Linked DNA regions of Homo sapiens: region 2 is linked to region 1. A link means that fine-mapping ties the variant in region 1 to the expression of a gene that starts in the linked region. Tissue or cell type: whole blood. Region 1 holds a variant in brackets; the other region holds the start of a gene. All regions are shown on one strand. Distances are between the middles of the regions.

Evidence for each region. PIP is the estimated chance that this variant, and not a neighbour inherited with it, causes the effect.
Region 2: it holds the start of SMURF1, and the variant in region 1 is fine-mapped to the expression of SMURF1 in whole blood (INTERVAL, PIP above 0.99).

What each region holds. Positions count from the first base shown.
Region 1 is chr7:99,235,960-99,243,563 of GRCh38, reverse strand. It overlaps a transcript of MYH16 not described here. Among named protein-coding and RNA genes, the nearest start is that of KPNA7, 32 kb to the right of the region's middle. The variant A/T (reference allele first, on the strand shown) is at 2,979.
Region 2 is chr7:99,141,535-99,147,351 of GRCh38, reverse strand. SMURF1 (SMAD specific E3 ubiquitin protein ligase 1) reads left to right here and starts at 3,244. Exons shown (of 18, transcript NM_181349.3): 1 at 3,244-3,626. The coding sequence starts at 3,572. It also overlaps a transcript of KPNA7 not described here. RefSeq lists silencers at 2,983-3,482, 3,623-3,952, 4,013-4,062.

The DNA.
Region 1 (7,604 bases):
GGTCCCTGTGCCTTTGTCTAAGTCATAATGTGTACTGGGAGCTGGGGAGGGTGGAGTAGCCAACCCCCTCCTCAACAAAAGAAAAGCAGAAGATCTACAGCCACTCCTTCCTCCCCCCACTCACCCCATCCCTGGCACTCACATAGATCCTCATGTTGGTGTAGCGTTGGCGCAGATTGTCTAGGACACTGGCCTCATTCAGGAAGGTCATGTCTGCCATGTCACTGGCCTGGTAGAATTTGGGTGGGTTCATCTGCTGGATATCATCCTTCTTCACAGTGAGTGTCTGGGGGGGTCAAGACACAGCAGCACAGGCATCAGGCATGGGGCATGGGGCATCTGGCCCAGGTCACCACATACCCTCTGGAGTCCCAGGAGATGGAGTGGAGCATCCAGTGGACCCAAGTCCTGGTCCAGCCACATCCCCCTGTGTGTCCTGGGATGGGGAGGCACTTCTGAGGCCAATGCAGCTTCAACTGCCTCCTCTCTGAAGTTGAGATGACAGTAGCCTCCTTGGCAGGTTGCTGGGAGAATTATATGAACTTAAGTGGAATCATGTAAAAATACCTTAAAAACTATGACGTTCCCTCCCTATGTTACAGAGACCTCTGGGCTCTGCTTCTCTTCCAGCCAAATCCATCCTGATAGATGATCAGAGCTTATTCTTTGATCCCATGGACACTTTGCAGAGATGTGACTCTTGGCTCTCTGCCTTGAGAGTTAGCGGTGATTTCGAAATAGCGATGAGCTTTTCCATTTCTCTCTCTCTTTTTTAAAGACTAAGTGCAGTAATGAGAAGGGTGGGGGGAAGAGTGGAACAAGGATTTTGATCTGTAACTGACCATGCACAATCAATTGAGATAACTCACTACCTTCAGACCAGCCAAACTTTTCCTTTTTAAATTTTTAATTTAATTTTATTTTTTGAGACATAATCTTGCTCTGTTGCCCAGGCTGGAGTTCAGTGGTACAGTCATAGCTCACTGCAGCTTCAATCTCTTGGGCTCAAGCCATCCTCCTGCCTCAGCCTCCCGAGTAGCTGGGACTACAGGTGCACACCACCATGCCTGGCTAATTTTTAATTTTTTTTTCTAGAGACAAGGTCTTGCTATGTTGCCTATGCTGGTCTTGAACTCTTGGCCTTCAATGATCCTCCCATCTTGGCCCCCAAAAGTGTTACAGGTGTGAGCCACCACATGTAGCCACTGTTCCACTTGAAAAAAAGACATTCCCCTGCTCCCTCCAAGCCACCTTCAAGGATAAAATTGAAAGCAAGCAAGAAAAGAAGAAAAAAAAGAAACCAGCAATGAGCATTCATCAGTAGGTGTGTTCGCGCCCGTGCCATGTGGGCAGATCTCTTCCCCATGCTGCACCCCAATTTCTTCATCTATAAATGAAAACTAGGCCGGGTGCAGTGGCTCATGCCTGTAATCCCAGAACTTTGGGAGGCCGAGGTGGGTGGATCACCTGAGGTCAGGAGTTCGAGACCAGCCTGGCCAAAATGGCGAAACCCTGTCTCTACTAAAAATACAAAAATTAGCTGGGCGTGGTAGCGCACACTTGTAACCCCAGCTACTTGGGAGGCTGAGGCAGGAGAATCACTTGAACCCAGGGGGCGGGGGTTGCAGTGAGCGGAGATCATGCCGCTGCACTCCAGCCTGGGTGATAGTGCAAGACAAAACAAAACTAAACAAAAAAAAAAAACTAGTGCCAGCTCTTAAGAAGCTCCAGCATCTGGGATCAAAGCTGAAGACATACGATCTAGAAAACAAATACCTTTTGGCTGCCTGCAACCTTAGATGTGAGGCCTGAATCCATACTGGGATTTCTGGGACTTTTAATAACTTATTAGTACAATAGGCAGATAATTTGAAATCTTGACAGTTCTGGAAAATCCACCCCCACTCCCCGTAATGGTTACCACGCCCTTAGTAAACCAAGCTGTTTTTTGTTTGTTTGTTTTTGTTTTGTTGTTTTTTCTGAGACAGAGTCTCACTCTGTCACTCATGCTGGAGTGCAGTGGCGTGATCTCAACTCACTGCAACCTCCGCCTCCTGGGTTCAGGCAATTCTCCTGCCTCAGCCTCCCAAGTAACTGGGATTACAGGCGCAGGCCACCATGCCCGACTAAGTTTTATATTTTTGGTAGAGATGGGGTTTCACCATGTTGGCCAGGCTGGTCTCAAACTCCTGACCTCAGGTGATCCACCCTCCTTGGCCTCCCAAAGTGGTGGGATTACAGGCGTGACCCACCATGCCTGGCCTCAAGCTGGGTTTTATTCTGAATTCATTTCCAGGGGTTTCCAGATCTCTGGTCCTCGTCCACGTGCAGACACTTCGCTTTCAGCAGAGGAATGGAGAACTTGGCCTTTATTTTAGGAGCCAGGGAAGCCAGCGCCACAGGCTCCATCTTTTCTGTCCCAAACCCGGCTGGCCGGCACTGTCTGCTGCAGATACTCAAGGAAATTGTGTTGTCCTTAAATGTGGATCCAAACTTAGATGCACCCTGGGGCTCCACTATCATCACCCATCACTTCTCACGACACTGCAGCACTCTCCTCTCTGAAAACTGTTTCTCCTGGGAATTAAGCTTGACTTTCGTTCAAATCCATTTCCACCCAACTATATCTTTTTACCACTGCTCCTCTCGAAGACAGGCGCAGAGAAAAATACAGCTGTTGCCAGTTCTGATCACTGAGGTCTCTGGCTTCCTTTTTTTTTTTTTGAGACAAGGTTTCTGTCTGTCACCCAGGCTGGAGTGCAGCAGTGCAATCCTAGCTCACTGCAGCCTCAGCTTCCTGGGCTCAAGCGATTCTCCTGGCTCAGCCTCCTAAGTAACTGGGAGTACAGGGATGCACCACACCTGGCTAATTTTTTGTAGAAACGGGGCCTCGTTATGTTGCCCAGGCTGGTCTCAAACACCTAGCCTCAAGCGATCTGCCTGTATCGGCCTCCCAAAGTGCTGGGATTACAGGCTTG[A/T]GCTGCCGCGTCTGGCCTCTGACTTCTTTTAATCAAGAAATTAACCAGGAATGGACCTCGCAGGTGCTAATATATTTATTGCTGAACACACATTGCTCTGTTTTTTGTTTTTGTTTTGTTTTGTTTTGTTTTCTTTGCTTGCTTGCTCTCAATTTTATCCTTGAAGGCGGTTTGGAGGGAGCAGAGTAATGTCTTTTTTCTTAAATGGAAAAGTGGCCGGGTGCAATGGCTCATGCCTCCCTCTTGGCAGCCCACCATGAAGGGATGGAATGGTGACATAGAAGGGGCATGGGCATATGAGCCAGATACAGTGGGTTTGAATCCAAATTCATCATTTGCTATTTTTGCAACGTACACAGGTCACCTAAAGTGCCCTTGATCCTCAGTTTTCCTTCTCTGCAAAATAGGGTCAATAAATCCTACCACATAAGATTGCCAAAAGGATTAAACAAAGTGTCAAGTGCCTCACCAGGGGTCTGCCAAGAATACAAGAGACCCTGCCCTTACCCATTTAAAATAAACCAAATTAAAAAAATTCTAATAAAAATTGTTATTATTTTCTAAAAATAAAGATAGGGTCTCACCAAGTTGCCCAGGACAGTCTCAAACTCCTGAGCCCAAGTAATCCTCCTGTCTTGGTCTCCCAAAGTGCTGGGATTACAGGTGTGAGCCACCACGCCTAGCCTAATAAGCCAAATTTTCTATCCATTCTCTCAAGTCATATCTCATAGTCAGACGTAGTGTGGGCCAGCAGAGAGAAGGGTGGGTTGGTAAACCAGCTGTCTGGGGGGAAGTGTCCCTGATTTACAGCATATTCCCATTTCCATGGTATAAATACTTCCATCACGGCTGATAGCAAGCTACCCAAGGTTTAACAACTGGCTGTAAAATCCCTCATTGTTTAGTGTTGGGGTCTTTGCAAACCATCACAAGCCAGGTTGGATCCCTGCAATCCACGATAAGCCAGGTTGAGTCCCTGCAAGCCATCATTAGCCAGGTTGGGTCCTTGCAACACGTTAAAAGCCATCGGAAGCCATCACATCCAGCACACCACCCCCATGCTCCAAGAGACCTGGGAACCACCATCTGTTCTTCATGCAGCTGAAGAGCTCACCCAGTGAGCCAGGGTGTTCTGTGCCCTCTCTCATGGCCCTCATGCCACCAGGGGCCATGGCACACAGTGACACTGCTCATAAGTGACATGCTCACTCTCATGCTTAGAAAATAGCTTCCACTTGAGAGCTGTTTGAGACATCAAAGATAAGTAACTCTCACGATCATCCCTTACGCACGGTACTGTCTTAGAGTCTATGAAGTGCTTTCATGTGATCTGTCTCGGAATCTCTATTGTGATATAGCTCAGAGAGGGAATGCGTCTTGCCCAGGGCCACACAGCTTGAGTGTAGGCGAGTCTGGATTTGACCCCAGCACATGGGACTCGGAGGCACCTGCTCTTTCTGCCACCCTGCCTTCTGGGCGGGAGCATGCCTAGAAAAGGCCTGGGTGCCTGCCACTTGGTTTCATCCTGGAGATCGTGCCCCACTCACCTGGTTGGTGATCGTCTTCACGGTGACTTGGTCACCCTGTTCAGACTGGATCTCCCCAGCGACGAAGCCTTCCTTCTCATCTTTGACCCAGCAGGACCTCTTAATGTCATAGGGCTTGTTCATGGCTTCAATCCTCTCCTTTTCAGGAGGTGCCAGGAAAGGCATAGGGTCCACATCGTCCCCACACTCCCCTTTGTACCCACCAGGCATGGTGGCTTGGTTGAGGATGGAGCAGGAAGGAGCTGAGGGCAGGAACCAGGACTTCCCTGGGTGCTGTAGGGGGAAGCAGAGACAAGCTGCTGAGGCTCACAGGCTGAAGTCAATGTCCCGAGAAAGACAGAGGCTTGCTTCTCTCATGTCACCTTGTCTGTCTTGGTGCTATTAGGCTTTCATAACCAAGAATAAGAAAGAAGCTAATTGTTCAGCCACTGTAGAAAGCAATTTGGAGATTTCTCAAAGAACTTAGAACTGTTATTCAACCCAGCCATCCTATTCCTGGGTATCTAAAAAAAGGGAAAAATAAGTTTTCCTACCAAAAAGACACATGCACCTGTATGTTCACTGCAGTGTTATTCACAATGCAAAAACATGGAATCAACCTAGGTGGCCATCAGTGGTGGATTAGATAAAGAAAATGTGGTACAGGCCAGGTACAGTGGCTCACACCTATAATCCCAGCACTATGGGAAGCCAAGGTGGAAGGACAGCTTGAGCCCAGGAGTTTGAGACCAGCCTGGGCAATATATCAAGGCCCCATGTCTACAAAAACATTAAAAAATTAGCTGGGCATGGTGATGTGTGCCTGTAGTCCTAGCTATCCTCAGGGCTAAGGCGGGAGGATTGCTTGAGCTGGGGAGGTCAAGGCTGCAGGAAGCCATGATTGTACTACTGCACTCCAGCTTAGGTGACAGAGCAAGACCCTGTCTTAAAAAAAAAAAGCCAAAAACAGAAAGAAAATGTGGTACATATACACCATGGAATACTATGCAGCCATAAAAAAGAATGAAATCATGTCCTTTGCAGCAACATAGATGCAGCTGGAGGCCATTATTCTAAGTGAATTAACATAGAAACAGAAAACCAAATACCACATGTTTTCACTTATAAGTGGGAGCTAAATATTGGGTACAGACAGATAGAAACAATAGACCCTGGGGACTACTAGATGGGGGAGAGCAGGAGGGAGGCAAGGATTGAAGAATGGCCTATTGGATGCTATGCTCACCACCTGTGTGATGGGATCATTTGGATCCCAAATCCCAGTGTCACTCAATATACCCATATAACAAACCTGCATGTATACCCCTTGAATCTAAAAGTTGAAGTTATATTTAAAAATGAAATAAGCTAATAAATCTTCACAGTTAAGTACCCCCTCACCCCCAACAACACAAATGCTTCTGCCTCTTTCATCTCATATGTTCCTCATACTAAGGCTGTGAGGTAGGGATCAGGAAGCCTATTTTATGGAGGAGAACACTGGGGCATGGAGAGGTTAAAGGTAGGGTTTCTACCCAGGGTCTGTGAAATGGGACAGGAAAACAATTGCCACTTGGTTTTCACTTTCTATCTGATATGAACAGAGGCCACAGACCTCCGTAGCACCACAGCCTCTATTTGCTCCCAGCAAAAATCAAAGCTCTTCACTTCTCGTTAGGGTGGCTGCAGATGTCTCAAAATACTGTTTATCTTCATCTCAACTTTAAAATTATGGTCTCTTTAAGCCCTTGGTTTGATACTGTTCTTTAAATTTTTTAATAAAGAAGGACATTTATTATTGCCTTACTGCCATGTCACAAATTAGTTTTTAATATATTTTTTCTTTTCTTTTTTTTTTTTTTCAGAGGCAGGGTCTTACTCCATCACCCATGCTGGAGTGCAGTGGTGCAATCATAGCTCACTGCAGCCTCCAACTTCTGGGCTCAAGCAATCTTCCCACCTCAGCCTCCCAAAATGCTGGGATTACAGGCATAAGCCACTATGCTCGACTAATTTTAAAATGTTTTATAGAGATGAGGTCTCACCATGTTGCCAAGGCTGATCTCAAACTCTTGGCCTCAAGTGATTCTCCCACCTTGGCCTCCCAAAGTGCTGGGATTACTGGTTTTTGAGCCAGCGCACGCACCCAGCCAGTATTACAATACCATTCGTTTCCTTTGCAGCTCTGTGTATTTTATTTTACCTTTTTTTTTTTTTTTTTTTTTTTTGAGACGGAGTTTTCTTCTGTTGCCCAGGCTGGAGTGCAGTGCTGCAATCTTGGCTCACTACAACCTCTGTCTCCTGGGTTCAAGCAATTCTCCTGCCTTAGCCTCCTGAGTAGCTGGGAGGTGCCCGCTACCACGCCTGGCAAATTTTTTTTTTTTTTTTTTTTTTTTGTATTTTTAGTAGAGACAGGGTTTTACCATGTTGGCCAGGCTGGTTTTGAACTCCTGACCTCAAGTGATCCACCTGCCTCAGCTTCCCAAAGTGCTAGGATTACAGGCATGAGTCACCATGCCCGGCCTATTTTATTCATTTAAAAACACTAATCTGAGCGGAGTCCACAGGCTTCACCAGACATCCAGCGGTCCCTAGTACAAAATGACTGCCTGGGTCAATTATTATCTCTCCTAAAACGAGGACAGTCTGGGTCTCTCAATTCCCAAACCCCAAACAGTTTCACTGAATCCCCAGGAAGGAGGGGAACTGGAGGCTCAAGGGAACAAAGACAGAAATCAGGGGCCTCCCCAGTTCGTCTTGGGGTTGAAGAACCTTCTCGAAGTTTCAGGGAGGGTGTGGTTCTGAGCCTCTTTGCCAGCAATGCATTTCTCAAGGCCAAGGGTACAGCCTCAGCCTTTAGATGAGGGACTCCTAATTGTGCGCTGGGCCCTCGCTGTACTGCGCCTACAGTCTCTCCTGCCAACACCCCCAGTTTTTCCAAAAGAAGCTGAGTCACAACAGGCAAGCCACTGAGGCATAGCCAGGCGCTTTCTCCTCCTCTTGTCTTCCTATGGGGCCTGGCGTAGAGAGTTCTGGCTGGAACTTTTTTTCTGCGTCACCCGCCCCCGCCATCCTAGCCCGGAAAGCTCGGCTGTTGCAC
Region 2 (5,817 bases), 95 kb after region 1:
CCAGCAAACTTGAACGTTGGCTTTAAGCTCTAGATTAAGATCATCTGTGACTCGAGATGTCTCCATTTCTCTTCTTATGTAGAATTGTTCTGTCATCTATGTTCTAGCCTGCTATACACATCCCCATCACTGTATCATTGTCAGTTGCTCATGTCTGTTTCATCCAGTTAACTGACCCTCTGGAATGCTGAAGCTGTAATAGATTTATTTTGTATTCCTTGTTCCTAGCCACATAGCAGGTGGCCAATGTTTGCCGAATGAGTAAAACATGAGCTTCCAGGTAGGAAGGTCCCCTTTGTGCAGCTGTGGTGAAAGATACTATTGGGTATATCTAGCAATTTCAAATGGTCCCAGTTTATGACGGTTTGACTTACGATTTTTTGATGTTATGGTAGGAAAGCGACACACATTCAGTAGAAACCACACTTCAAATTTCGAATTTTGATTCAAAATTCTTTATAATAACTTTATCGTAAAATAGGCTTTGTGTTAGATGATTTTGCCCCACCGTATGGTAATGAAAGTGTTCTGTGCACATTTAAGGTAGGCTGGGCTAAGCTATAATGGCTGGTAGCTTAGGTGTAGTAAATGCATTTTCCGTTGTTTTTTTTTTTTTTTTTTTTTTTTTTTTTTTTTTTTTAAGACACAGTCTCGCTCTATTGCCCAGGCTGAAGTGCAGTGGCACAATCTCGCCTCACTGCAACCTCTGCCTCCCGAGTTTAAGTGATTTTTGTGCCTCAGCCTCCCGAGTAGCTGGGACTACAGGTGCACACCACCACACCCAGTTAACTTTTGTATTTTTAGTTGACAGGGTTTCACCATGTTAGCCAGGCTGGTCTCGAACTCCTGCTCGCAGGTAATCCCCCCACCTCAGCCTCCTAAAGTGCTGGGATTACAGGCATGAACCACCATGCCCGGCCTCCGCAAATGCATTTTTGACATATTTTCAACATATTATGGGTTTATCAGAATGTAACCCCATTGTACATCAAGGAGCATCTGTACTTGTTAATGAATGAACAAAATGCCTTTCAGAAACCTCCAGAAGCAACCTCCTGACTCAAAGATTAAGGAAACAGTCAAGCCAACGAAGAACCAGCCGTCGGGGCGGGGAGAAAAACAACAAAATTAAGCAATGAAAGGTTTCCAGGTCAGGAACACCTGGGGATAAGAACAGGAGCCTGCACCCAGGTAAGCAGAGAGTGATGTCTGGTTTTGTTTAGAGAGGAGACTCTTTGAATAGGGGGGAAATACTAACGGGATTGGCAGAAGAATGGGGATTACTTGGGAGCATTAGAGACTGGATGGATTAATTCAGACCCAGGCATTCACTCTCTGTGACAATCATCTACAAATGGAAACAGCTGGATTGTGGCTCTACTGCTATTGCTTAAACATTGCTTATATTCTTGGGTCTTTCTTGAGGATAACTGAAAGAGCCGCAAGGTGCCATAGAAATGACCTAGGACCATCCTTTTATTTGACAGATGTGATGCCTTGAATCCTGCCCAGGAGAGACTCTGCTTTCACTAGGGTCATCCGAGGCAGGCAGGCAGGCAGGCAGGCGGGCAGGCAGGCAGGTATGTCTAGGCGCTCTAGGTAGAAGGCTCTGTTCCGAAGACTGTGACCTTAGGACAGGCACAAGGCTGCAGGGGATGGTAGCAATGGCCCAGAGCCTACTTTCCTTGGGACACACACACACACACACACACACACAGTATTAAAAGAATTTGTTCAAGTTGATTGATGAAGAATCAAATAAAAATAAAAAAGAACTTGTACATGAAAATGGGTAGTGGGGTCTGGGAGCGGTGGCTTAGGCCTGAAATCCCAGCACTTTGGGAGGCTGAAGCGGGCAGATCACCTGAGCTCAGAAGTTTGAGACCAGCCTGGCCAAAACAGCGAAACCCCATCTCTACCAAAAATACAAAAATTAGCTGGGTGTGGTGGCTAACGCCTGTAATCCCAGCTATACAGGAGGCTGAGACACGAGAATCACTTGAACCTGGGAGGTGGAGGTTGCAGTGAGCCAAGACCGTGCCACTGCACTCCAGCCTGGGTGACAGAGTGAGACCCTGTCTCAAAAAACAACAACAACAACAACAAGGTAGTGGGTAAAAAACAAGTTTGATAAACCTAGTTTTCCCTCTTTCTAATAATACCAGTTTATTTCTATAACATGCTAACAGAGAGGAGTTTGTTTGCTGGAGAAAGCGCATAATGAGCTTTTTCTGTGTGTGTGTGTGTGTGTGTGTGTGTGTGTTTTGAGACAGTGTCTAGCTCTGTCACCCAGGCTGTAGTGCAGTGGCCTGATCATAGCTCACTGCAGCCATGAACTCTGGGGCTCAAGTGATCCTCCCACCTCAGCCTCCCAGTACCTGGGACTACAGGCGCGCACCACCATGCCCAGCTAATTTTTGTATTTTTTGTAGAGATGGAGTCTCCCTATGTTGCCCAGGCTGGCCTCAAAGTCCTGGGCTCAAGTGATCCGCCCGCCTCGGCCTCCCAAAGTGCTGGGATTACAGGCTACAGCCACCGTACCCAGCCATGAGCTTTTGGTTCTAACCTGCAACCCCGGGAGAAGGGGAAATTTAGCAGAAGACATGGGAACACAAACCACAATGCCACTTTCTTGTTTGGTAAAATTGTATGCAGAATGGATAATAACAAACATCCGCCTCTCAACTTTATCCCTCCCTCTCATCTCGTTTTCCTTGTCCGTATATGGCACTTCTGCGATTCTGGCAACTTTGTTATGGGTCAGTGGAGCACACCCGTTGCACAGAACACACCTAAGGGCTTTGTCTCTTTGAGAAGTCCCTCCCTTGAACTTGCACGATCGAAAGCTCTTAACTGAAAAAAACTGGTATTGCACGCCTGTGTGCAAGGAGCTTGGTGTGGACACAGCCCACGGTTTCATGCAAACCACTCTTCAGTCACTCAGGAGCCCAGAGCCTCGCAGAGACAGGGGTCAAGACAGAGGGCGACCGCGCGCTGGGTCCCGGGGCCAGCTCTGCTCTCCCTTCCCGGGCTCGGGGCCAGACCCTCCCACCCACCGACCACAGGAAGGGTGAAGACCCCAACCCGCGGGATCCGGGCCCCGCGCGCCCGAGGCAGGCGTGCGGGCGACGTAGCAGCGCACCCCGCCCCGCCCCAGCGTACGTGGCGGGGGCGCGCACGCACGCAGGCGCGGGGGCGCGCAGGGCCGGGCCGGCACGGCGGCGGGCGCGCGCGCGGCTCGGAGAGGCGGCGGCAGCGGCGGAAGCGGCGAGGGCGGCGGGCGTCCGGCTCTGAGGTGGTGGAGGCGGCGGAGGCGGCGGCGGAGGCGGCGGCGGCTCGGGACTGGGCTCGGCTGGAAGCAGCGAGGGTCAGAGCGCCGCAGCAAGCGCCGATCTCCCGGCTCGACCATCCGCCTGCCGCCCGGACGCCTGGGCCGCGGAGTTTGTGTCCCGGCTCGGACCCCGGCGCCCAGCCCGGAGCCGTAACCTTGAGGCGGCGGCGGCGGGGCCGGGCCGGGCCGGGCTGGGGGGCGGTGGCGCTGGATCCGCGGCTGCCCGATCGTTGGCGGGAGATGTCGAACCCCGGGACACGCAGGAACGGCTCCAGCATCAAGATCCGTCTGACAGGTACGGCCGGCGGGAGGCCCACCCGCGCCCCGGCGCCCCCTCGCCCGCCCCGGAATTCCCCGCAGGGCGCCCTTGGAAGCGGCCCTCCCCCACGCCGGCCGTTGTCCCAGGACCTCGTCACCCCCTTCGGCGTGCGCCCCTCGCTTCTCCCTCCTGGCCCCGCCCCCTCGCCGTTGCCCGGCCCCGCCCCCTGGCCGCTCGCGCCCCCTCGGTCTCGCGTTCCCTCCCGTTCCCCCGCACCTGCCCCCTCGCATCTCCGTCCTGGCCCCGCCCCTCTCATTTCCATTCATGGCCACGCCCCTTGCATCTCCTTCCCTGGCCCCGCCCCTCGCTTCTCTTTTCCTGGCCCCGCCCCTTGCATCTCCTTCCAGGCCCTTTCCCCTCACCTCTCCCCGGCTCGGCCCCTTGCCTCTCGCTTCCCTTCCTCTCCCTAGCACCTGACCCCTCGCTTCTCCCCCCAGGCCCCGCCCCCTTGCCTTTCACCTCCATCCCTGTGGTCCTTTCTCTTCCCCACCTTTCCTCCCCAAACCTGACCCCGCCCATCTCTCTGGCCCCACCCCCTCGCTCCTCTCTGCTCCCGCCTCCTAACTTTCTGTCCCCGCCCCCTCGCTTCTCCCTGCGTCCAGCTCCCTCGCTTCTCTCTGGTCCCGCCTCCTCACTTCTTTCCTAGCCTGGGCCCTCACTTCTTCCTGGTCCCGCCTCCTCACTTCTTTCCTAGCATCGGCCCTCACTTCTTCCTGGTCCCGCCCCCTTGCTTCTCTCCTTTTTTTCTCCTCCGCCGTTTTTACCCCCTCCCTCCTTCTCCTCGCTTCCCATCCTCTCCGCCCACCTGCCCCCTCGCTTTTCCCTCCTGGCCTTGCCTCTGTTCCCCTGGTCCCATCCCTCACTTCTCACCACTTTCCCATCATCTCTCTTGCTTTCCTGTTTTCCCTCCCACCTGCTCCCTCCCCTCATCCTCCTGGTCTTTCCCACCACTTCCAAGCTATTTTGCTACCTCCCCTTCCACTTGCCCCCTTGCTTCTCCCCTCCTGCCCCCACCCACCCTCTTCTCACTCCCCCATCCTCTTTCGTTTCTCCCTCACCCCCCCACACCGTCCTCCTCCCTTCTTCCCCTAGCCCCGCCCCTCACTTTCAAGCCCCGCCCTCATTCCTGCCTAGCCCCGCCCCCTCGCTGCTGTCTGGCGAGGCCTCCACCCTTTCTTTCCTTCAGCCTGAAATTCCTCAATCCTATCTTGTAGCTGCTCCCAGTCCTGCTCTCTTCACTTCCCCCTGGTCCAGCCCTCTTCAGTCTCAGTCTGGGCCACTTCCTGTCTCTTAGGCCAGACCGCTAGCTACTTTTAACTCTGCTTCTTCAATTTTTACCTTTTCTGCATTTTGTTTCACCATCACCCCCACACTCAGCAACCCAGAGCGCCGTGAGGCTCTGATCCCTACTCCCACACTCACTGGAGGCTTTGGAAGCTGCCCACACGCAGGCTCCTTGATTCATTTTGTCTTCAATGAAAAGTCCGTGTTTCCTGGGTGGCTCTGTAGTGCCACCTTCAAGGGTGAGCGCAACGCTCTGCCGCGGGCCTGCGACTTGGTGGCGCGGATGTGATGCCAACCTGTTTCCCCCCGGGCTCCAGAGGTTCTGGACCAGGCTGCATCCTCGTCTTCCCTTTCTCACTCTCATTGGTACTACTCTCTTTCCAGTTTCAATTCATCCCTAAAGCAGGATGGCCGTGTTGCAAATGCGGCTCTGCTCCGGGACTTTCCAAACTCGAATATTTCCAGCTCTGGAAGGAAACTAAAAAGTTCATTCTAATCCCCGTCAGGGATTTTCCCCTGGATTTTTCTGTTCAGTGGCTCAGTCGGGTGAGAACTCCAAAGTCCTGGTTTGGTCAGGTCCTTTCAAAGAGAGAATGAGCGTTTTGAACACTTTATGGCAGATGCGCAGCCATAAAGTCATCGGTAAAATCCATGCAAACAATAGGTAATTTTTTTAAACTAAAATTTACTTTGAGAGCCCATAGTTGTTGCATGGCCCAACTTTTGTCTTAAGAGAAGGTTTTGTTTTTTTGTATAAAGATATCAAATAATGATTTGGACCCAAACCCAGACCCTGGTTTTGTAACGTAGGAGGTAGTTTCCTCTGGGATCTTTGCTTCTGGGGAAATACATTTCTTTATGCCAGGGCTGATAGGAAACGCTT